2 separate regions of the Homo sapiens genome follow, and region 1 is linked to region 2. Evidence: fine-mapped QTL for protein levels in blood plasma. A gene starts in region 2. The other region holds a variant in brackets. All regions are shown on one strand. Distances are between the middles of the regions.

Region 1 (8,278 bases), 66 kb before region 2:
TTATGTTAGGCCCTGGCAGTGTATGTTTAGATGGGCTAAGACAACATCAAGAAGCAATGGCTAGATAACCATTTAATTTGTCCCCAAAGGTACGTTTTTATCTGTCTATTTGTCTATTTATCGATCTGTCTATCTAAGATGGTCTCACTCTGTCACCCAGGCTAGAGTGAAGTGGCATGATCACTGCAGCCTCTCTGCTTCCCAGATTCAAGTGATTCTTGTACCTCAGCCTCTGGAATAGCTGGGACTACAGATGTGTGCCATCACACCCAGCTAGTTTTTTGTATTTTTAGTAGAGGTGGGGTTTTGCCATGTAGCCTAGGCTGGTCTCGAACTCCTAAGCTCAGTTTGCCCACCTTAGCCTCCCAAAGTGCTAGCATTACAGGTGTGAGCCAGCGTGCCCGTCTCCCAAAGGTATTATTATAATAGCTATCAGTAAACGCTGTAGCTATGTGAATTTCTTAAATCTCTTCCTTCCTATGCTATGTGATTTTTACATAGAAAGCAGCATTGTTATGTACATGTACCGCTAACATTTGTTTCTTGACATAAGTTCAGAGCTGTGACTTCATCTGGACTACACCTAAAACCAAAACCACTGAGTAAGATTTTTTCATTTTGTGAAAGTTCTGCCAATTTTGCTTAAGTAGCTGTGTGATTTTAAAGGTTGCCACTAGATGGTGGGCTTTTTTTAATCTTCGTTAATCTCAAATGAGTTAACTGTTGATCCTTATCATTCATGGATTCTGTATTTGTAATTTACCTACTTGCTAAACTTTATTTGTAACCCCAAAATCAATAGTCACAGGGCTTTTGCAGACATGAGCTGGGAAGTGAAAAGTTTGAGCCTCCCAACACACATGTTCCCAACTGAGGTGGAACAAAGGGATGCTCATCTTTCATACTGTGAATAAGTGTCCTTTTCTTGGGTCTTTTTAGTGCCTTTTTTTTTTTTTTTTTTGCATTTTTGTATTTTTTTTGTTGTTGGTGATTTCACTATTAAAAGCCCCTAAGTGTAGTGATGAAGTGCTGACTAGTGTTCCTAAGTGAAAGAAGGCTGTGTTGTGCCATATGTAGAAAATATGTATATTGGATGTTTCTTTTAGGTCTGGGTTACAGTGCTGTTTGCCATGAGTACAATGTTAATGAATCAGTATATATTAAATAAAGTGTCTTAAACATGCGTTAACATAAAACACGCACACAGCAAGATTATGTATTGATCGGTCAATAAAAATGTAACTAGAGACTCCCAGCAACCTAACCCTGTATTTCCCCTAGGAGCAATGTTCAGTATTTGCCAATGCAGTGTTTGTGGTGACTTTATGGAACATAAAACTAACTCGTAAGAGAATGACTAATTTTTTTGTAATATTCAAACTCATATTGTCTTCCTGGCTTTTGAGAAGGCTAAAACGAATTCTTCCAAATGCCTCTTTCCATCAGTACAGTTCCCGTTCATTTTTTAGTTTGCTGTCAGTAGTAACTTGAAAAGTTCTCAGAGTCAAGAGACTTTTTATTTCATGGGAGGTAAACAGTTCAAAATGAACATGCTGGAAGAACTCGAGTAAGAATGAAACGGTTGGTTTTCTGATATTTTTGAGAAATGAGTCTTAATTTTGTTACTAATCAAAAAGTAATGGAAGGTTGAAAGATAAGTGAATAATAAGGTAGGTGTACCACATATCATGGTGAAATTCAAGCCTATTGCTTTCTGTTTGTAGAGTGCAGCAAAATGTGTATATAGGCCATTGGAAAACCAGTCCTTCGTTATAGGAGGTGGCGGGTTTTGAGGTAGAGCTGTAGCCTGCTTTCCTGAGAGTCTTATTTGGAAGTCCCAAACCATTTTGTGCTATTCTTTGAATGTTTTTACCCAGATATTTTCCCATTTCTGTGTGTGATCTCCTGGTTCTTCATCCACAGGGAAGAAACATCTTGAAGCAGGAGAGACAGTGAATGAAGTGGGGAGCCCTATGCTGCAGTAGGGCCACAACAGTTAAGGAAATCTTTGGGATTAAGGTTTCTCTGTTAAAGAGTTGATTTAAAAAAAAATTTTTTTTTTTTTGTATTTTTTTGTAGAGACAGGGTTTTGTCATGTTACCCAGGCTGGTCTCGAGCTCCTGAGACCAAGCGATCTGCCTGTTTAGGCCCAAAGTGCTGGGATTACAGGTGTGAGCCCATGCCCAGCTGATTTTTTTTTTAAGCAAACAAATTTGACTTCATAAATTGGGTGGGATACTGTTGGGTTTTGTGTTACAGTGAAAAGAAGACTTTGGAATAGGTCTAAACCACTAAATTGTGTGATTTTGCTTACTCTCTCTGAGATTTAAAGTTCTTCCATGCACATTGGAGGATGGGGGTTGTATCTGTGTTTGAGAGGATTGGAAACCTGTGTGTTGCTTCTGTAGCGTTGGTGAGTGCCTCACCTGGTCAGATCTCAGTGAATGGTAGTGATTTTAGAGAGACACAAAGTCCAGGGGCAGCATACCAGTCATGTGGGGGTACCACGGGGTCAGAAGTGTTATTTGTCCAGTCGAGGCTATCTTTGCTCACACTGCAGAAAGCTTGGAGACATTTCTGGTTCTTGACCTTGTACTCTCTTTAGTGACAGCTCCATTCTATTCTCATGCTTACAGTATTTGAACTCTGGCCTTTACTGGAAAAGTTGATTTGATGAAATGAGGCATTTTTACTTTTGTTGACTGACTAGTCACTCCATGGAATGAAGACCTTACTGTCCTTTGTGTTTTCGGTCATTAATTATGGAATAAGAAACAAAGCCTCCTATTAAAAGGAGTTTCAGATATCAACAAGTCAGGGAGAAGGTAGAGGAGACAAGGAATCCCTACTACACTTTCTTCTAAGGGAGGCTTCAATAAAAAACCTGACTTAGTCTTTTTTGAGCCAGCCGTCACAGGGAGGGGCATCTAGAGGGCCTCACCTTTCCACATAGCCCCTTTCTTCTTTTGGGGATGGGCCGGGGACAATCCTGGGGTCTTAGGGAAGAAGATTGTGGTTGGTGGGCTGTAGTCAGCCTTGGCTCTTTTCCTGCCTTACTCCAGGCTTGTGTCCCTGCTAGGCCTGTTCCCATGCCATCCTGACCTTGGAGGACTTTCCTTTTTTTTTCCTTCGTTGTAATTATTTATTCTGTTACTGGCTGCTTAGTGTGACATATTTGATGTTATTTCAATTGTAATACTCTTCAAATTGGAACACTCCTTTTCTGATATTCTTAGCAAATCCCTCTTTTATTTTTGCCACTTGTTATAATATCTCTAAGAAGTTACTCCAGGACCGGGCAGTAGGGATTACTGATTCAGATGGGTCCAGTGACTAGAATATGAGTAGAAAGTGTGAGGTCTAATTTGAACCTGTCAGAGTTACTGTTGCCTGCGCTGGCCCAAAGTGCAGATTTTTAGTCAGCTTGTGATAGGCCAGGTGTTTTGTCTGGACCAGGAGTTATCTTTGACTTGTAGCTAGAATAAGGATCCTGAGAAGTCAGGTATCCACTTGATGTCCTTTTATTTGACTTGTTACCATTAGTACTCTCCTGGGATCAAGGCTGCCAAGCCTGACCTATACCCAGATTTCCCAGTGCACTCAGGAGATCGTCGGTGGCCTTGATGAAGCCAGTGCTTTTTGGGAAAAACGGAGCAAGGCAACGCACGACAGAAGCGGTGCACCAAGGAGTAAAGATTCAGTTCCATGGGCCCCACTTGCTGTTTGAGAAAATGTCCTGCTTCCTTCCTAGCTGACTTGACTCCCAGCAGTAACAGGTGGGAGTGAGGACGCAGGGTCGGCACTCGAGTCGACTGCTCTGGCTCCAGGCGTATTTTCTGAAACTGGACTCTGCCAGCCCTTAGCTTGTCAAGTTAGCCTGGCCAGAGTCTGGGGCCAACTGTTCCACTGGGCCGTCGACTATGACACTCTGCTGTCCATGGGCCACTATGCACCCCTCCACTGTCCTTAGGATGGTTTGGAGCCTTCGATCCAGGGCAAGGAGGTGGGGTTCAGTGAGGACAGGGCTGAGCTGGTCTTCCAGCAGTGATTCTCGCATCACATCGCTGAGTCTGTAGTCAGCTTGGGCCAGCAGCTGCAGGTGCAAAAGTGTTTTCTTTTTTATCCTGAAAAGACAAAGTTACAGGAACCAAATAAGCAAATGTAAAGAAAATAACTTGCCTGAACTTCTTTCCCCACAAACAGCTGTTGTAGCTGATACTCTTGGCGCCTCTCCTTGTGTCTTCTCAGGCACATTTTAATGGAAACCAGGTAAAAAGGGAACAAATGAAAGGCAAAATCCAGTATCCTGCAGTCCTTTGCCCAATTGCGATTTGGTCAAGAGCCTGCATAGCCATTTGTGCTCTAATAATGGTGATGCTGGGCTATATGCATTTTCTCTGACAACGCTAAGGGAATCAAAACCAAAGTGATACTTAGGATTTTTCAAGGAGATTTAAAGCTAATGGGAGAAGTTTCTAGTAGGTGAATTGATGAGCTATTTGCTGTCTCAAAATCCCCCAGTACTGCCAGCCTTTAAGTTGTTTCTTGCTAACTTTATTTCTGTTTGTCAGATTTTAAAATCACAGAGATGAAAATGTGGTAGGACCCATCTTTAGGATTTCAGTTTCTTTTTATGTGGGAATCTGACTTGGACTCTGATGTGTAAGCAGCTTAATTGACTTTTGTCAAAAACAGGTACTGCTCATCCAGTCCTGCTCTGGAGGCAGGGAAGGGAGGCCAGAGGGAAGCATGTTTAAATTAACCTAAGACATAGATGAGGAATACTCATGCTCTACTCCGAGTTTTCCAGCTGGAAACAAATGAGATGTTTTTGCTAGGTGTGAATATCATATTTATAATTAGCTCTGCATACTGCAGCTGAGCAGGTGGTCAATTTTACAAGCCTGGCTGAAACACTGGAGAAGTGTGGAAGTAAGTTAGACATTCTCTAGAGAAATGGTGGCCAAGCAAGGGCCTTCGTGCCTTCTTCCAGTCTGCACAGGTTTACAGGACTTTAATCAGGGTTTTGCTTAGATGGTGATCAAGTAGTAATATTTATGAGCCGATATGAATGCTGGGCAAAGCAGAGGTCTGATTAGTAATATCAAAACCCAGCAGACTGCAAAAATAGGTGATTATCTGAGTGGGTCAACGATTAAAGTTGGCAATTGAAAGGTTTAAAGGATTAAATCCTAATTCATCCTATGTGGAAGGATGAAAAAGACAAAACGTTGTGGGGGAAATTTTGATAGTTGTAGTACAGTCATGAATCGCTTAGTGATGGGGATATGTTCTGAGAAATGTATCCTTAAGCGCAGGTTTTGTCACGGTGTGAACATCAGAGAGTGTACTCACACAAACCTAGATGGTGTAGCCTCCTGCACTCTTAGGCTATATGATAACTGCTTGTAGGCTACAAAACCTTTACAACACAGTGGTGGATAGCTGTGTATATAAACATAGAAAAGATAGTAAAACTGTAAAATGCAGTAAAAATACCATATTATTAATCTTATGAGACCACCGTCATATATGCAGTCTGTCATTGGCTGAGATGTCATGCAGTGCACAAATGTGTAGGAAATAAGGTGATTCATGTCATTCTACCCACTTACGTCCTGGACCAGTGAAAACTGGAAGCCCTTCAGACCTTGGCTGCAAGCAGCATGAAGGGTCACAACTGTTACTTGCCCGTATTATCTGCTGCAGGAAAACTTACATGCAGCACTGGGAGAGAGGCGAGAGGATGGAGATTTCATCATGGGAGTGTCGTCCGAACCTAGGAGGAGAAACAGGCTTTTATGGGTGGCCGGCAGCATCCTTTGCATTCCCCTGAGGCTTCCTCTCTCCTCTCAGCATTTTGTGAATCAGAGATTGGGGTAAAATGCCAGGGATCATGGCAGCTGCCTCTCCAGCCCCTCTCCCCAGTCAGATCACAAAAGCATCTGTACAGAGATGTTAGAGCTAAGCAATCCTTCATTCATTCACTAGCTGCAGAGGGCCAGCCACTGAGGATGCACCTTGCTCTCGAAAACCTCACCCTATTTCACTAGAGGGCACACGAGTGCTCTCAGGCTGGAGGAGGATCAAGTGGTTCTTGCAAAGGTAAAGAGAAAGAAGGAAATGGAAGAAGCCGGGCTCGAAGGAGACAAGGCACGTGGTGGTGGAGGCCCTCATTTGCAGGGCGTCTGTTTCCCCCGAGCAGCTGGCTGCACAGAGCAGCACATCTGGGAGAGGGGATTGTTGAACACACGTGGGGAAGCTCACCCTCTGGCGTTGTCAAGGTGAATAAGGAACCCATCATCCCCGAACTTGGTGAACATCTCATAATGGTGCCGGTCCATATTCCCTGTGAAGGAGGGGAGGACTTAGCTGGAACCAGCAGGCCAGGGGGACAGGTGCTCCTGACCTGAGTTCTCTCCAGGGAACGGAGGCCTGTCATCACTTGAGAGACAGGGGTGTGAACGAAGCTGGGCCTCACACTGTCATTTCCTCAGGGCCATCAGTGAAGCAGCCGCAGGAGGGAGAAGGAAGCGAAACAAGCAAACCCTAAATGGACTGGCTTCAAGTCTAAGGCTTTCACCCCTGCCCCTGCCCCTACTCCAGCCTTTGGCCAGAGATTTGAATGTGCAGAAAGTCATCTTTTCACCTCGTGTATGTATTGACATTGGCTTTCCTCAGCCCAGAGATCCTCAGCTGATCCTGGTTATAGTAAACAGACACAGCTAAACTTCCTGAAAGGCACGATGATGAGCCAGCTGTCTGACTTGCTTCCGACCTAAGCTCCTGTATGACGGCCACCTTCATAAGTGTCTCGTCTCCCTAGAAGTCCCTGTGGGCCTGGAAGGTGGAATTACTAGTCTTGTGTGTCCGTGGCCTCGCCTGAGGCCCTCCCTGCTACATATTTGTGTACTTTCTTCCCTTCCTACCTGGTTTCCCCTCACTTGGTGAAGTGAACATACAGCTTCCAATCTGACGCCCACTCAGGCCCGTGGCAGGGTGAGATGCCTGCCTTATGAGTGA[C/T]GACCCCTTGAGCTTCTTCCAGTTCTTTGAAGAGAGGGGAGCCTGTTACCTTCTGTCCTCTGGGACCTCCGCCACTTCTGAGGCTGTGGGAGGTGCAGAGTTACTCAGTCCTCATGAACCAGGTTGTAAGTTTGTGCTCAAGGTCACGGGGAACCCTAGCCACATAGCAGAGCCCACTTCTGCTGGGGGCCTGCGTGTGGGGACCTACCTATCAAGAAGTCGAAGATGGCCATGTCGATGACATTGAGGAGCCGCTGGCTGTTGTTGTACGGGTAGATCTGTTTCACTGTGTCACAGTAAAGGGGATTGACCTCCCACCTGAGGGGGAGAAGAAGTCCTGGGGCTGGAAAAGCCAAGATGGCAGGGTGTCGGGGGTCTCCCCACACCTCCCCCTGCCCCCCCAATCCCTGCCTCCCTGATCCTGCCCTGGGCTGGTGGCAGCTTCTAAAATTCAGAAAGGCCCTGGGCAAGGACGCGTAAGGCTGCATATTCCGTGTGGTGAGAAGGTCCTGGGTCCTTTAAGTCTGGTGGACACTAAACCCATGGTTGGGATACTGTGTGCCAGAGGGGAGAGGCCGGGGCAGGCAGGAAAGGAGGAGGTAGTGACCCTCACCTGCTTCCTCGTCCCTCCACAGTCCCTCTCACCAAGCCTCTTGGACCCTGCGCCACTCATAGCACCTCCATGGGCTGTTCCTGCCCTTTCTCTCTCACACATGGTTTTCTGCCTACAATGCTCCGATGCCCATTTTCATCCGAGGGCTCTTCTCAGCCTTCACAGAGTCCCTTAGGATCTGTCATGTCCTCCAGAAATTCTGCCTGGTTACTTCTTTTCCCACGATGATCATGACGGCTTGACTGATGGATCGATTCACTCAGTCAGCTAGTGTGGAGTACCTGCTATGTGCCAGGGAGGGTGCTAGGTCCTGGGGATACAGCAGTGAGGTCCTTGGTCTCCCAGGGCTTGCTCGGGAACCAGGTGTCCCTCCCATGGGATTCTCGTGTGCTCCCTGGTTATAGCAAGTGCTGTGCTGTGTTTTCGTGATCTGGCTACATGTCTGTTCTCCCCACTAGACCAAGGAGCTTCTCAAGGAGAGAGTCTGAGTCTTCCATTTCTGTATCCCATAACACCTAGTGTTGGGTATATGGAAGGTTCTTTAGAACTGAATAAATGAACTAAAGGGGAGAACAGACCCAGGCCTGCTGATCCCAGGATCAATATGAAATGGGGCAAAGGAGTATTGAGGCAGCTTTTCAG
Region 2 (16,547 bases):
AGGTCCATTTCCAAATCACAGGAGGCCACTTCCTGTCTTAGCTTAGCATTGTTGGCGGGAGAATCTAACAAGGGGCCAAGGCCCTGTTGACTCTGGGAGAGAAGCAAATGGCCACCATCCATGAGTAAGAACCTGGACTTTCATCCAGCCTGCGGGTTGAATTGCCTGCTCACAAGAAATCTAGGTTCAGAGCGTTCTAGGGCAGGCACAAAATAAGCAGGACAGAGATAAAAAGATGGGAGTGAGAATGGAGAGATTGTATTTTTCCTTCCACAGATGCCATGGGGGAGCTGGGGCAGGGAGGAGCTTATCTTCCCCAAGCTCCTAGACGAGGCAATTCTTATTTCTAGCTGAATTCCTTTTCATCTCTCCTGACTTCTTCTCCACCCTTCTCCTCTATCTGCCTTGGCTTCTGGATCTTCTCAAAGCATCCCCCAGAAAAACTTCAGCCAACTTACTCCCTTTGACCAACTGTCATTTTTGAAAAGCTGCCCAGTCTCTTTGCGGTGATTTTCAAAGAGAGACCCAGGACTAGGTTTTCTTTCAGTGACAGCAATAGGTAGGAGGAGGGGTGAAGAAGACAGGAGTTTCTGATGTGGGAAACCACACACACACACACACACACCCCTAAGAAATGCTGAATCTGTAATTGCAAGACAATATAACCTTCCTGACATCTGAGGAAGATGTCAAGAAAGAAAAGCAAAAACTCATATTTGTGTTATAGCTGCTGGGGTTTCTACATTAGGGAGAGCTGACCCTGTTTGACCTTGCCTGTCGAGACCAGAGGGTTACAGAGAGACTGACCAAAGATATGTGGCCAAAAGGCCAATCATATGTGGGCAAAACTGGCCAAGCTGATCAGTTTGACACGTCAAAAGACAGATGTTGTCTGACTTGGGCAGCTTGTGGGCCAGAGAAGAAATCCAAAGCTCAGTATCTAAGAATGCAAAGGCGAGCAACAGTGTGAACCATCACCTGTGCTCCAGGTAAAGCCTGCCTGCCCTGCGTCATCACTTATTCAAGCAAAGGACTAAGAGCAGCACAATTCTGGCTTGTTAGTGTATGGCCTGAAAGTGAAGACTTCATTTCCCTTCTTCCCTGTGCACTTTCCTCGTCACTGTTCAATACAGGTGCCAAATGTGTCATCATGCTTGATGGAGCCTGGCGTTGGCTGGCTGGCTGTGATCAGCAGCTGACCACCTGACAGAAACACTTTCCCTAATTACATTTTTAACTTGGATTGTGCCACACTTAGTTACATTTTTGGGGGGAAAAGAAAGGAAGGGAGGGAAGAACAGTGAGTGAAGGAGGTTTGCAGAAAGCTTCAGGGCCAGATAGCACACAGACAGCCCACCTTAAAAATCAACACATCTTCCCATTTGTAACTTAACTACATGTCTAAATGTTGACATCCAGTGAACAAATATTAATTAAAAACCCAAGACATTCAAAACTGCACAAATGTCATCTTCCATTGTGTGAAATCAAAAAGGAACGTGTGGGTGAGTGGGGAGGTGGGGAGACACACCATAACCTACCTCTTATTGGTAATGAGCTTGAATTGTGGAAGGATACTTTCTGACTTCATACCATTTCTTATTAGTATGATGGTCAAAATTACAAAAAAAAAAAAAAATCACTCAGACTAATGGTCTCTTGTGGGCAAGTGGCGAAGAACACTGATTTGGCTTATTTTATTCTCTGTACTTCTCCTGGTGTGGTGGACAGTTTGCTGATACAATTATTTTGGATAGGACTTCATGTTAGGTATTGGCATGGAGGCATCCACATTTTTTTTTTTTGAGATGGAATCTCACTGTGTTGCCCAGGCTGGAGTAGAGTGGCACGATCTCTGCTGACTGCAACTTCCACCTCCTGGGTTCAAGTGATTCTTCTGCCGCAGCCTCCTGAGTAGCTGGGATTACAGGTGCCCACCACCATGCCCAACTAATTTTTGTATTTTTAATAGAGATGGGATTTCACCATGTTGACCAGTTTGGTCTTGAACGCCTGACCTCAGGTGATCTGCCTGCCTCAGCCTCCCAAAGTGCTGGGATTACCAGTGTGAGCCACTGTGCCTGGCCCTCATATGTTTATAAATCACTAGATTTTAAATATTGGCAGGGCTACAAACAAGGAGAGCTTGTCTGTGAAGAGAAAAACAATTAGCAAGGTCCTTCATTGTTTCTTCCTCTGCTGTCCATTCTATTTATTTGTCTGCTGCTAGGATCTAGGGGTGTCCTCGACCCTGCACATAATGGCAGGCCCCCTGTCTTCATCAGCACTGCTACATCCTCATATTTGGCAGGGAGCACTCTCATTTAAGGTAATGAGTGACTCCCTTTCACAATAGAACTCTGAGTGTGGCTCAAATTCACCCTGGCTAATGAATCTTCTGTATGGTTTTTTTTTTTTTTTTTTCTGAGGCAAGGTTTCACTGTCACCTAAGCTGGAGTGCAGTGGCACAGTCATGGCTCACTGCAGCCTCAACCTTCTGGGCTCAAGCAATCCTTCTGTCTCAGTCCCTCAAGTGACTAGGACTACAGGTATGTGTCACCACTGGCTATTTTTTTTGTTTGTTTTTTGAGACGACATCTTACTATGTTGCCCAAGCTCATCTTGAACTCCTGGGCTCAAGTGATCCTCCCTCTGCCTCTGCCTCCCAAAATGTTGCGATTACAGGTGTGAGCCACCCTGCCCGGCCTTGTGTTTCATTTTTAACCCTGATATAAGTAACAACACATCTGCTTATTAATATGTTCATGTTAACATTTACTATCCAGTTTGGGTGGAAGGAGAGTGTTCTCTGCCTCTGAGGTCCAGTTTTAACATTTATAAGTGCAGCGGGTCCTCCTGTTGTGGCCCACAAACCTTACTTGGGAAAATGTCACATTTGAGCAACCACACAAAACTACTCTGTGATCTCTGAATATAGTAAGGTCACCAGCCCCCACTTGATCTTCTGTTAAATGACCAAGATCATTTCTGGTCAGAAAGTATGTGTGTTTTTGCGAGTTTTTTTTGTCTTTGTTGACACATAATGGTGTAGAAATCAAGCTTAAAACTGATTGTAGAACAGTTTGGTGAGAAAGATTTTTGCTTTTCTGCCATAATATTCCCCTGGACTTTGCTTCGGGTCCAAAGTAACACCGGGAAGTTTAAGACCACAGAAATGTGACTAAATGAATGCTGATCACATTTACAAAAGCAAGTGACTTTGTCCAAAGTCTCTCATTCTCAGATCCATAGTAGACATATAGATACTTTTTCTAAGGGCAAAATTTCCTGGTTCACTAAGCCAGACTTCCATGTTATTGACGAAATAAAGATAATATTGAAAATGACAGTGTCTGAGAAGCAATCTCAAACTGCCTTTTATTACTGCACACAGTTAACGTGGAATTGAGAATCACTTTCTTTCTAACATAAAATGTGAGCCGTAGAGTTACTACTGAAATTCACCACAGTGATTCAGCCAACAACTCAACTTATTCCTTTGCAAAAATTTCTGAAGGTTTTTTTTTCTCCCTTCAATCTCAGCATTACAAAATAATGAGCAAACAGTTAAATTGGCCCAGCTCTGAGTTTCAAGAGAGATTTATGGTCTGCTCATCCTCTGGAGGGACCATAAAACCACCGATGACATCTTACTTTGAAATCTCTTGTATTAAGTAAAGAGATGGGTGTGGTGCGATAGTGAACTCTGCATGTGAGTGGTATTTAGACAAGTTCTGTACTTCAAAACAGAGTCCTTAACTCATACGAAGGCTTCCTGCCACTAGCAAGGGATCTCAGTAATGAGCGTGCTGCCTTCCCTAACACCCCCATCCTTTTCCAGAAAGATTCTTAATTTTATCCTAAATATATTTGATATTTTTTCCTCTGTATTTTGCTTTGGGTTTAAAAAATTCCCTGAAAGATTTTTTTCTCGTCTGTGGAAGCATCAAGCCGCAGATCCAAGTCAGTCCAAATCACCAGGATCATACAAGACGATAAAAGTGCCTTCAAGTTCTAATACTTGCTGGATGGGCCCAAGCCGCGTTTTAAATGTGAACAATGGGGTGGCTGCGGCAGAGAACTGACCATTTACTTCCTGCCTCAGATGACCCCCTTGTGATCTCTGAAACTGGGCAGAGGAATAAGGAAAGGGAAAGAACTGGGTTTTGGGGAGAAACATGCTTTCTGGAAGGCGCCCAGGTTTACCCAAAGAGCACAGTTAAGTGCTGAATTTCAACTAGCTCTGGAGTCACCCTGTTTGGGGCCTCATTCTGGAAACCCGAAGTCCAGCGGCAGCTTTCCTCCACATCAGGACAGAGAGTGGGGTTTGGGAGCGGACGAGGGAGCGGGAGTGGACGAGGGAGCAGGAGTGGGGCTCAACGACGACCCAGGCGCTCAAGGGGAAGGGGCTGAGAGCGTTTCTTCGCTGTGCGGCTGCAATAGAAACTTTTTCCTCGTACTATCTGACTCCGGGACTGGACTGTGAGGTCTGCAACAGCTGGTGGGGTTCGGGTGGGGAACACACTCTAAGCCCAGCGCCAGGGCTGGAGCCGTGGGTGGAGCCGCTGCAGCCCTGGGCCGGGGGCGTCAGGAAACTCGAGACTGGGGCGCGGGGAGGCCCCGGCCAGAGCGCCCGCTCTCCCGCGTCCCGGGCGGGGTCCTCACCTGTTCCAGCGGGCCACCTTCCTCCGGTAATACCGCAGCGCCTCCTGGCTGGCCAGGAGCGAGTCCTCGGCTCCCAGGAGAGGCGGCTCCTCCGGGACGTTGTACAGCGGGTGGGCGAAGAGGGCCTGCAACTTGGAGCTCGACCCGCTGTGGCTGCCGCCAGCCGGTTCAGTCCGGGGCTCGGTTCGGGAAAAGTTGTGCACGATCGTGCCGGGGTCCGAGGCAGCTGCGGCCGAGTCCCGCGCCAGGGAGGAGGCGCGGCCGGTGCACGGGCACCCCCGCGGGCGCTCCCGAGGCCGCAGCTGGCGCTGTACTTGGGGCCAGAGGTGGAAGTAGAGGTCGGCGGAGAGCAGCGCGCCCAGCAGCAGCAGAGTCAGTAGGCGGTCCCGGCGCAGCCCCGGCATGGCGTGCTGGCCAAGGGGGACGCCGGGGGCAGGCCGGCTGTCTCCGGGGTCCCGGGAGGGGTCGCGGGGTGCGGGCAGAAGAGGTGCCTGGAGTCCCGCGGGTGGGCCGGGGTCAGTGAGACCGGAATGCTCCCCGCGCGGGCTAGTCCCCTGTGGAGGGGTGTCGCTCCTCAACTTGGGGACCAGGTGCACGGAGCACCGGGGCTCTCGGAGTCAGCGGGCGTCGCTTCTCCGCGCCGAGTGAGCCGAGGGAATGGGGTTCCCGGGGTGCCCGCTTCTTGCGCCTTTTCTCCCGTGCGCCCGCCCGCCCGGACGCTCGCGGCAGGTGAAGGGCCCCGGGGCGCCGGCGCCGGCTGCCACCGCGGGCGGACGGGCGACGGGGCGGGGGGCGACCGCGGAGGGCGGACGGAGGCCGCCGGCTGCAAAGCCCGGGGCGTCTCTCCTGAGGATGCTGTCGCTCGGCGGCGGCTGCTAGTGCTCCCGCGACTCCTCCTGCGGGCGGCGGAGACGCCAGTGCCGGCGGCTGGCACGGGCGGCGCGAGTGGGGAGTTGGCGAAGCAGGAGCGGCTCCGGGGAGCTTGTCTGTGCGCCTGGACTCCTAGAGGCAGAGGTAGCGCGGGGCCTCCCCGAGCCTGGCCTGGCGCCGGCACCCCCACCCACTCTCCGCTGGCACCTGCCTCTGGCGCAGCTGACGGCCAACTCCCGATCCGAAGCCGGCGCTGCCCTTGCACCTTGTCACCCACCCACTGCCTGCGCCCTCCCCCTCGCTCGGGCCTCCCACTTTCCCTGCCCAGGTCTCAATCCAGTCACTTTAAGGGACTCACGCGAGGGGTCCGAAGCCTCTTTTTACCATTTCTATTATTTTTAGGGAAAAAAAAACCACCACAAGCCCCCTAAAACCCTTTTTTTCCTGTAAGCTTTGCCAAATGAGTGTGTGGGGGGGGGTGGGGGGAGGCGGGGGTGGCAGTGTTGGTATCTGTTCTTTCTTTGTGTTCCCTTCCACCTCCGCCCCCCTGCAGAGCGCAGGGCACATCAAGATTCATAACAACTACCTACCACATGCCTGGCACATAGTAGGTGCTCAGGAAACACGCTCTTGGTGAAGGAAAGAGCTTGACCTTTAAAAGTAAGGTATCAGTTTTACCTAGAATCTTGCTGATTTCCTGTTTGGAAGGAGTTTGATTCCAACTCTGCCTGTACTTTAAAAAGAGGAAATGTTTCTTGCACTCAGGGAGGGAGGGGCCCTGATGACCCCACTCCGAACTTTTGAGTTTAGCTTGGTGTGAAAGTAGTCCACCCAAATGAATCACTGGAGGACACATTTAGGCTTTCTCCAATATTCTGTGAGGTAATGTACCCTCCCCACACCCAGTTTTCCTTTTGAAGAAGAGGGAGGGAGTCCTGAACTCCTGGCTCCTCTATTTAATGACCCCATAGTATAGTAAAGTGAAGTCTGATTGGAGAGGCGGCCCCACCCTGCTGAATTTCAGGAAATCCACCAGAAGCTGCTTGCCCAGGCAGCAAAGCTTCCCATGTAAGTTAGTTCTACTCTTTAACCCCCTCCCTTCCCTTGCTGGAATTGAGAACCCTCAGACATACTTTGACTTGTGGGTTCAGACCAGAGTTCTTTTCCCCGTGGTTCAGTGTAAGATTTCTTCGGGACTTTGCAGTCTCCTCAAATGTAAATGAAGATAATGATGGAACCTACCTCCTAAGGTTATTATGAGACTTAAATGAATTGAAGTACAATTATGTGTCACGTCTGAGAAATGCATCCTTAGGCAATTTTCCTGTGTGTGTGAACATCAGGGTGTACTTACACAAACCTAGATGGTTCAGCCTACTACACACGGAGGCTACATGGCATAGCCTGTTGATCCTAGGTACAAACCTGTACAGCATGCGACTACTGAATGCTGTAGGGAGTTGTAACACAGTGGTGAGTACTTGTGTGTCTAAACATAGGAAACATACAGTAAAAATACAGTATTGTAATCTTATGGGACCACTGTTGCATTGACTAAAATGTTATGTGGCACTTGACTATGTATAAATTACTTAGAAGAGCTCCTAACTCATCCTAAATAAGTGTGAAATATGTGTTTGCTATCATTATGATTACTTATTAGTTCCTGTAGTACACTAGGCTTGGTTAGAGACTGCTCATCGCTAGGACAAAAATAGAAAAGGATGGAAAAGGAAGATAGCAGGAAGGAACCTGCTTTCAGGGGCATAACATTGTGGCCTGAGTGCCCAGTCCAAGTGAAAAAGCCCAAGACGGTACTATTCCCAGCTACTCCACTCCTCTGGGTATGATGGTGGGCATTTTGAGGGGTTCTAGAACCTCCTCCTTTTTATCTGGAATTAAATTTTAACTGATTTCCAATTTCTGAGAGACGTTGCAACTTCTAATGTGTTTAATTAGATGTCATGGCAAGCGAATGAAGAAGTCAGGCATTGAATGGTGGTGATGTAACTGCAGTAACTGTGTGGCAAACTGATGCGCATTTTTCTCGGCTGGCAAAGGACGTGGATGTGGTGACACTGCAGGTCTTGTGACTTCAATTCTCCTCAACCCATGGGGTCATACTCGCTTAGTAGACTCTTTTTTTTCTGGCCCCAATTTAGGGAACAATAGTGTAACTTGCTTGGAAATTATGTAAACATATTTTCCATGCCCTTTAAAGGTCACAGTCAAGTGCAGAACTGCATGTGGGAGTTAGATATTAAGTGTGAATGAAGCTGGATAGGAGAGTGGAAATCCTACCAGTAGGATTGGCCAATAGGATGTTGGCTTCCTCAGGTTTGCCTCTAATCTACCTTTACCCCTCCTAGAAATGAGCCTTCTCCTGCTCCTCCGATCTTCCATGTCTTGGGCCCTGGCTTACTTGCCAGCCTCACATACATCCTCTCCGTTCACACTGAAGGTATCCTAAATTGCTGTTTGCTGGGACCCATCATTCTGTTTAAAATCTTTCATTGGAAGCCCCTCCCTCCTTTTCCATCTCTACTGATCTTGATGTATCTAGAGCCTCATAATCTCTTGCTCATACTTGCAAATAGGCTTCTAACTGGTCCCTCTGCTTCCATGGTACCTTAGTTCAGTGCCCACACACACTCTTGCCAGAGTGAGACTTCTAGTATGCAGAGGCAACCAGGATATTCTCCTCCTGAAAACCCCCTGAGCTTCTCCTTGTTGCTGGATTAGGTCACTCATTGTGACACAGCTCTTCGTGGTCTGGCTTCTACCTCCTTTCTTCTTTATATGCCCCCTCTTTCGTCTTCACCCCACAAGACTTTCTGCAATTCCCAAGTGCTCCAACCTTGTAGGGGTGGGTTGCCCCTCCACACCTGTGGGTGTTTCTCATAAGGTGGAACGAGAGACTTAGGAAAGAAAAAGACACAGAGACAAAGTATAGAGAAAGAAATAAGGGGACCCGGGGAACCAGCATTCAGCATATGGAGGATCCCCCCAGCCTCTGAGTTCCCTTAGTATTTATTGATCATTTGTGGGTGTTTCTCGAAGAGGGGGATGTGTCAGGGTCACAAGACAATTGTGGGGAGAGGGTCAGCAGACAAACACGTTAACAAAGGTCTTTGCATCATAGACAATGTAAAGGATTAAGTGCTGTGCTTTTAGATATGCATACACATAAACATCTCAATGCTTTACAAAGCAGTATTGCTGCCTGCAGGTCCCACCTCCAGCCCTAAGGCGGTTTTTCCCTATCTCAGTAGATGGAGCATACAATCGGGTTTTATACCGAGACATTCCATTGCCCAGGGACAGGCAGGAGACAGATGCCTTCCTCTTGTCTCAACTGCAAGAGACATTCCTTCCTCTTTTACTAATCCTCCTCAGCACAGACCCTTTACGGGTGTCGGGCTGGGGGACGGTCAGGTCTTTCCCTTCCCACGAGGCCATATTTCAGACTCTCACATGGGGAGAAACCTTGGACAATACCTGGCTTTCCTAGGCAGAGGTCCCTGCGGCCTTCCGCAGTTTTTGTGTCCCTGGGTACTTGAGATTAGGAAGTGGTGATGACTCTTAAGGAGCATGCTGCCTTCAAGCATCTGTTTAACAAACCACATCTTGCACCGCCCTTAATCCATTCAACTCTGAGTTGACACAGCACATGTTTCAGAGAGCACGGGGTTGGGGGTAAGGTCACAGAATCTCAAGGCAGAAGAATTTTTCTTAGTACATAACAAAATGGAGTCTCCTATGTCTACTTCTTTCTACACAGACACAGTAACAATCTGATCTCTCTTGCTTTTCCCCACACAACCTCTCACAGATGTGTCTTTAACCGAAAGCTCTTTCTCCTTTCCCCACCTGGAAAACACCCATTAGTCCACCCAAGCTTTGGCCACTTGTCCAATTTTTCTCTGATGCTTGTCTTCATACCCATTAAACTCAGTGCCTTGTGCTCTCATGTGCCCCCACAGCTCCTCATATGTTCCCCTATTACAACGTTGGCCATGTTGGGTTTCCTTTTTAGTATGTGTTATGGGTTGACTATATCCTGCTCTCAAATTCACTTGTTGAAATCCTAACCTCCAATACTTCAGGACGTTACCTTATTTGGAAATAGGGTTGTTGTAGAAATAATTAGTTAAGCTGATAGCGTACTAGTGTAGAGTGGACCCTTAATGCAATATGACTTGTGTCCTTATAAAAAGGAGAAATTGGGACACAGAGACATGCATACAGGGAGAATGCCCTATGAAGATAAAAGACAGATTGGGCAATTCTTCTATAAGCCAAGGAATACCAAAGACTGCCAGCAAACACAAGAAGCTAGGTAAGAGGCATGGAACAAATTTGTCCCTCACAGCCCTCAGAAGAGTCCAACTCTACTGACACCTTGACCTTGGATTTATAATTCTAGAACTGTGAGACAATAAATTTCTGTTGCTTAAGCCACCCAGCTTGTGGCACTTTGTTACAGCAGCCATTGCAAATTTACACAGTACACATGTCTGCCATCTTCACTGGAGCACTACTCCTGAGTGTAGAGGGAGAATGCTACTTATATATGTACACAGAGCTCTGAGGATGGGGCCTATCATTTGAGAAATGCTCAAGAAATGTTTGCTGAGTGAAGGCAGAGATATTGGCCATCTCTACAACTGTAGAATCTCGCATATGGCCTAGTATACAGTAGGGGCTAAATTATTGTTTACAATAAGATGACATAGCTTTGGACCCTGTAGGAGACATAAAGAAATATATGACACAATTCCTTCCTGCCTTCAAGAGTCTTGTGATCATCAGAGAGTCCAGCTATACCTGTACTCACAAGCCAATGGGAAAAAAGTATGAGGTAGTACACAGAGCAGATTAGCAATCTGTGCCATTGCATGCATTAAGAGGAGCAAATGCAAAGGGCAGTTGTGTTTCCTTTCAGTCTAGCTAAATATCAAGCTCTCTACTTGCAGGAGTTAAATCATGAAAACAATAGAGTCAACATTTAAACACCAAGTTCCTCTATCTGTGAAGGTTAGACTCTATTTTTATCTTGCCCATGTTCCCGTGTTGCTTAGAACTTGACTAGTTGTTTTTTGTTTGTGTAGGCAGTTTTCTATACTAGACTATAACTCCATGAGTTCAAGGGTAACATGTTTTCTTTTTTATTTTCCTGTCTTCATAGGATCTTAGACACAGCAAGGCATGCAAATGAGAATTAACAAATTCCTGCAGAATAAATGATGTTTGTGGGTTTATGTGTGTTCATACATGGAGGTGGGAAGTGGTTTGGAAAAGAGCACTTAAAATAAGAACATAAATGTATATAATCTAGCTCAAGATAAGTGTTAAGTTAGAACATCTACATAAGTGTTAAGTTAAACATCCGTTATGGTTTTTTTTTTCTTTAGACAGGGTTTTTCTCTGTCATCCAGGCTGGTGTGCAGGGTGGCAGAGTGTGATCTGGCTCATGGCAGCCTTGAACTCCTGACCTCAAGTGATCCTCCCACCTGTCAGCCTCCTGAGTAGCTGGGACTACAGGCTCATGCCATCAGGCCTGGCTAATTTTTTTTTTTTTGGTAGAGATGGGATTTCACCATGTTGCTCAGGCTGGTTTCCAACTCCTGAGCTCAAGCTATCTGCCTGTTTCAGCCTCCCAAAGTGTTGGGATTACAGACATGAGCCACTGTGCCTGGCCCCAGTAGATGTTTACTTAGAACATCAATGGAAATTGCCTTGATCCTATTGAAAAACCAATAAGTAAGAGACACATAAAGAAATAACTAAATGTAGACATCTATGTCCCTCACAGTTTTTATTATAGTATAGATGCATGTGAGGAATGTTACCTTTACCTGCTAGCTGTCTCAGTAATCAGCAAGAGATGCAATTGAAATTACTATAAATGGAAGACCTAGAATGGAGTGAACTTAAGAAACTGAAACTGATTTAGTATTGCACTCAACACCTTATTCTGAGGTAGAAAGTCCAAAATTTTCTAATCGTGACCAACACATAATGCCTCAGCATAAGCCAGAGATTTCTCAAAGTGCAGCCTGTGGATCAGAAGTACCTGATGTGCTTATAAAAATGCAAATTCCAGGGCCACACCATAGTTCTAGTATTTTTTGGAGGTGGGGCCAGGAATGTACATTTTCAATAAGCTGATTCTTACCAGCTTATAAGATTCTGACACACATTGAAGTTTGGGAATCACTGGTTGAAAGGACAGTGCTAATGAGAGCAAAGTCACAGATTTGATTCCAAATAGGCTAGGTAGGATCCATTGTCTAACATTGGCCATCCAACTTGTGTCATAAGGTTCTAAGGCGCTAAAGAGAGAGAGACAGAGAGTACGTGTTTCCCCATCATTGCTACTGGGGAACACAAATAAACAAATAAGTGCCTGTTCTTTACAAATGATGGGTATGTAGTGTGATCTTGCTATAAAAAGTCATGGCTGTACTTATTGGTAAATTTCCCCTGGGAAACTGAACTACCTTCCCTGGATCTCAGTTGCCTCATTTGAAACATGAAACGCTGAAGTGAATGATCTTTAATGTCCTTTTCAGCTCTAAAGAATGAGAATTTTACTTTTTTTTCTACTAAGCATATATTAATCTAGACCTTTTCACACAACTTTATTTCCAGTATAAACCAAATACTTGAGAAAGCAAACCAAGGCATTTTGTAGGAAGAGTAAGAGCACTGGATTGGGAGTTAGGGAGCTTACACTGTAATCTTGGCTCAGTCATTAACTAGTTTGGTGGCATGGGACAAATTAATTAATGTCTCTGGGCTTCCTTTGCCTCACGTGTAAATAACTATTTTGTGGTAGACAATTTCAAAGTTCTCTTCCAGCATTGAGTTCCTTCAGGAGTGAAAATGAGGTAAAGACATTCTTAGATGAAAGAAAACTAAAAGAAACAATCACCAGCAGACCTGCTCTAACAAAAATGCTAAAGAAAGATTTCAGATGGAAGGCAACTGCCACCAGAGGGAAACCTGGAACATCAGGAATGAAGGAAGGGCAACAGAAATGGTGAAAATATTGGTAGATATAACAGATTATTTTTTCTCATCTTAAGTTTTACAAAATATACCTAATAATTGAAGACAAAAATTATAGCATTATCTGATAGAGATTCAGTATACAGAGACGTAATACGTATGACCACTACAATACGAAGGGAAGAGGGTAAAGGGACTTGTTTGTTGGTAAGAACTCTGCATTCCACTTGAAGTGGTAAAATATTAATTCCAAATAGCTGAGAAACATTAAGTATATATGTTATAATTCCTAGATTATAATACTATACTGTACTAAGAGATATAATAAAATTAAAAACTATACTGAGAGACATAATAAAAATAATAAATATATTAAAATGAAACACTAAAATTACCCAAATCATACAAAAGAAAGCAGAAAAGGGGAAAGAAGAACAAAAATATAGGAAATAAACAGAAAACAAATTATAAAATGGTAGCCCTAAATGCAAACATACTGATAATTATATTAAATATAAATGGCCTAGACACACCAATTAAAAGACAGAGATTTTCAGAATGAATTAAAAAACAACTCAATGTTATGCTGCCTACAAGAAACCCGGTGTATATATGACCACTGGTAACTTAAAAGGATAGAAAATGACATATCAGGCAAACACTAATTAAAAAGAATCTGGCATAATTATATTAGTATTACTCAAAGTAGCAATCAAAAAGACAATATACCAAGAAGTCATAATAATTCTAAATGTGTATGCCTCTAACAATACAGCTTCAAAGTACATGAAGTAAAACTGATAAAACTGAAAGGATAAATGGGAAAATTCAACAGTTATAGCTAAAGACTTTAGTGTTTCTTTTTCTGCCACTCACAGAGCAAGTAGACAGAATATCAGCAAGGATATAGAAGAACTGAAAAATACTATTGGCCAACTAAATCTAATTTAACATTCATAGGACACTTCACTCAAAAGCAGCCTAATACACATTATTTTTAAGTGTACATGACATTTACCAAGATGGACTATATCCTCCATTATAAAACAAGCATTTAAATTTAATATAATCAAATCTTACAAACTGTGCTCTCTGCTCATAATAGAAATAGACTGGAAATAAATGACAGAGAGATATCTGGTAAATCTCCAAACATCTGAAAACATAAACATGTACTTACCACATGACCCAGTAATCCACTGCTAGGTATTTACTCAAATGAATTGAAAACTTATGTGTGCATAAAAACCTACTTATGAAAGTTTTATAGCAGCTTTATTAATAATTGCCAACATTAAGTAGTGCATATGTCCTTCAGTGGGCAAATAGATAAACTGTTGTACATCATACAATGGAATACTACTTAGAAACAACAAAGAACAAAATATGGGTATACATGACAGCATTGATGCATCTCAAAGGCATTATGCTGAGTGATAGAATCCAGTCTCAAAAGGTTACATATTGTATGATTACATTTATATGATAGCCTAGAAATGGAAAAGCTATGGTGACAGAGAATAGATCATTGGCTGCCAGGCATTAGGGACCGTGATGAAGGTATGACTACAAAGGTACAGCATTAGGAAGTTGTTTTGGGTGATGGAACTATTCTATATCCTTATCATGATGGTGGTCATGTGAATCCATCCATGTGTTAAAACTGACAGAACTGTACATTAAAAAAAGGGCAACTTTATTGGCCCTATTGTTCAATTATGTTAAAACAAAATAAAATAAAATAAAAAACAAAGGTTGCATACCTCCATCCAAAAGAATTTTGCCTGTAGCCTGGCTCATAATAGCAAATAATTGCACAAAAAAGTAAACATCCATCTATAGGGAAATATGTTAATAAATTGTGGTATTATTATGTAATGAGCAGTTAAAATGAAGGAAGTACAACTGTATTTTCTCAGCAAAGATACATCTTTAAGTTGTAAGAAAACATGAATATGGGGTGTGTGTGTGTGTGTGTGTGTGTAGCAGTATGATACTATTTAGATAACCTTCAAAACTGGCAAACTAGGCCAGGCACAGTGGCTTACACCTATTACTCCAGCACTATGGGAGGCCAAGGAGAGAGGATCACTTGAGGCCAGGAGTTTGAGACCAGCCTGGGCAACATAATAGGACCCCTCTCTACAAAAAATTTTAAAAATTAGTCAGGTGCAATGGTGTTCATCTGTAGTCCTAGCTACATGGGAGGTTGAGGCAGGAGGATATCTTGAGCCCAGGAGTTTGAAGTTATAGTGAGCTATGATCATGCAACTGCACTCCAGTGCCTGGAGACCCTGTCTCTGAAAAAGAAACAAACAAAAAATTGGTAAAATTATAAAAACATGCATGAGAATAATGAATACTGTCTTAGTCAGTCTGCTGCTATAACAAATATACCATAGATTGGGTGGCTTAAATAAAAGAAATTTATTTTTCACAGTACTGGAGACTGGTAATTCCAACATCAAGGTGCTGGCAGATCCAGTGTCTGATGGGGACACTCTTCCTGGTTTGCAGATAGCCCTTTTTTCATTGTATCCTCACACACTGAAGAAAGAGTGAGCATTGGTCCTTTCATCCCCTAATAAGGGCACTAATCCCATTTATGAGGGCCCCATCCTCATACTCTAATTACCCCTTGATATGATTTGGATGTTTGACCCCTCCAAATCTTGTGTTGAAATTTTATCCCCATTGTTGGAAGTGGGGCCTAATGGGAGGTGTTTGTGTAATGGGAGCATATCCTTCATGAATATATTAATGTCTGGGAGGGTAAGGAAGACTGTTCTCATTCTATTAGTTTCCGGGAGAGCTGGTTGTTAAAAAAGAGCCTGGCATCTCCCTCCCCTCTCTCTTTTGCTTCCTCTCTATGGCCATGTAATCTCTGTACACACTGGCTCCTTTTCACCTTCTGCCATGAGTGGAAGCAACCTGAAGCCCTCACCAGAAGCAGATGTTGGTGCCATACTTCTTGTATAGTCTGCAGAACTGTGAGCCAAATAAACTTCTTTTCTTTATAAACCACCCAGCCTCAAGTATTTCTTTATAGCAACACTAAAATACTGAGACACCTCCCAAAGACCCCACCCCTTAATACCATCAAATTGGGGATTTAACATATGAATTTGAGGAGAACACAGATATTCAGTTCTTAGCAAACACCAAATTCAGCACAGTGATTACATATGGAATTAAAGTGAGAAAAAAGTGCTTGTTGAAGATTATACATGGGGCTTCAGCAGTAACTGAAATGATTTCTTAGAAAAAAGATCTGAAGCATATATTACAAAATGTTAAAATTTGACAAAGTTGGGTAGTGCTATATGGATGTTGGTCACATTATTCTCTATCACGTTATGACTCATTCTCTTTACTTTTCATATTTACAATATTTATTAAAAATCTGACTTGATTCATTTTGTGACCTCATATCCTGGACTATTCTAGGTTTTTAAAGAGACCATTGAAAGAAAGCGTTGGGCTTTGACATTAAGGTGAAGCAGGTTAATAAGCAGCAGCAGTCAAAGAAATTTGCTCTATTTTATTTTAAAGGAAATACATGGTAGAGGGCAAGGAATATGTGTAAGAGCAATTTCAACTTAAATTAACTGAGTTTATATTTTAAAAGGGGAAGAAATTCACAGATTTTATGCGTGGCTGCTTTCAGACTGTGCAATTCATCTGAACAGAACTCTTGCATATATTATGTGAGCTTTACATGCCAGACTGAACAACAACAGATGTGTTTTCCCTGTTTCAGTTTTTACTACCTTGACAGTACAGCTATTCTTAGAAGGTGGGAAGCTGGGACTTCTTGGGTCTTTAGAATGTCATGTCTTAAAGTATCATAACTGTTTTCTAGCAACTCCTAATCCACTGTATGAATTCACAGCTAGTGGGTGAGACAAACATTAAACAAATGTAACACAAATAAATATCTTGGTCTGGCTCAAAGTTCAGTGTCAGAACGTCAATACAGCTAAAATAAATAGAAATGA

Direction of the effects. Positions count from the first base shown, and alleles are read on the strand shown. Strength reflects both the effect of a copy and how common the allele is.
In carriers of allele C in region 1, the plasma level of the protein whose gene starts at base 5,770 in region 2 tends to be lower than with T alone (weak association).

Evidence for each region. PIP is the posterior inclusion probability: the model's chance that the variant is causal. Protein levels are from antibody-based Olink assays in UK Biobank. Linkage for the fine-mapping came from a reference panel and not from the study's own genotypes, which makes the PIPs less certain.
Region 1: its variant is fine-mapped to the plasma level of the FAM20A protein (UK Biobank, PIP above 0.99).

Annotation. Positions count from the first base shown.
Region 1 is chr17:68,533,618-68,541,895 of GRCh38, forward strand. FAM20A (FAM20A golgi associated secretory pathway pseudokinase) reads right to left here. Exons shown (of 11, transcript NM_017565.4): 8 at 7,232-7,341; 9 at 6,268-6,349; 10 at 5,720-5,779; 11 at 1,499-4,124. The coding sequence ends at 3,860. It also overlaps a transcript of PRKAR1A not described here. Among named protein-coding and RNA genes, the nearest start is that of PRKAR1A, 25 kb to the left of the region's middle. The variant C/T (reference allele first, on the strand shown) is at 7,024.
Region 2 is chr17:68,595,598-68,612,144 of GRCh38, forward strand. FAM20A (FAM20A golgi associated secretory pathway pseudokinase) reads right to left here and starts at 5,770. Exons shown (of 11, transcript NM_017565.4): 1 at 4,666-5,770. The coding sequence starts at 5,069.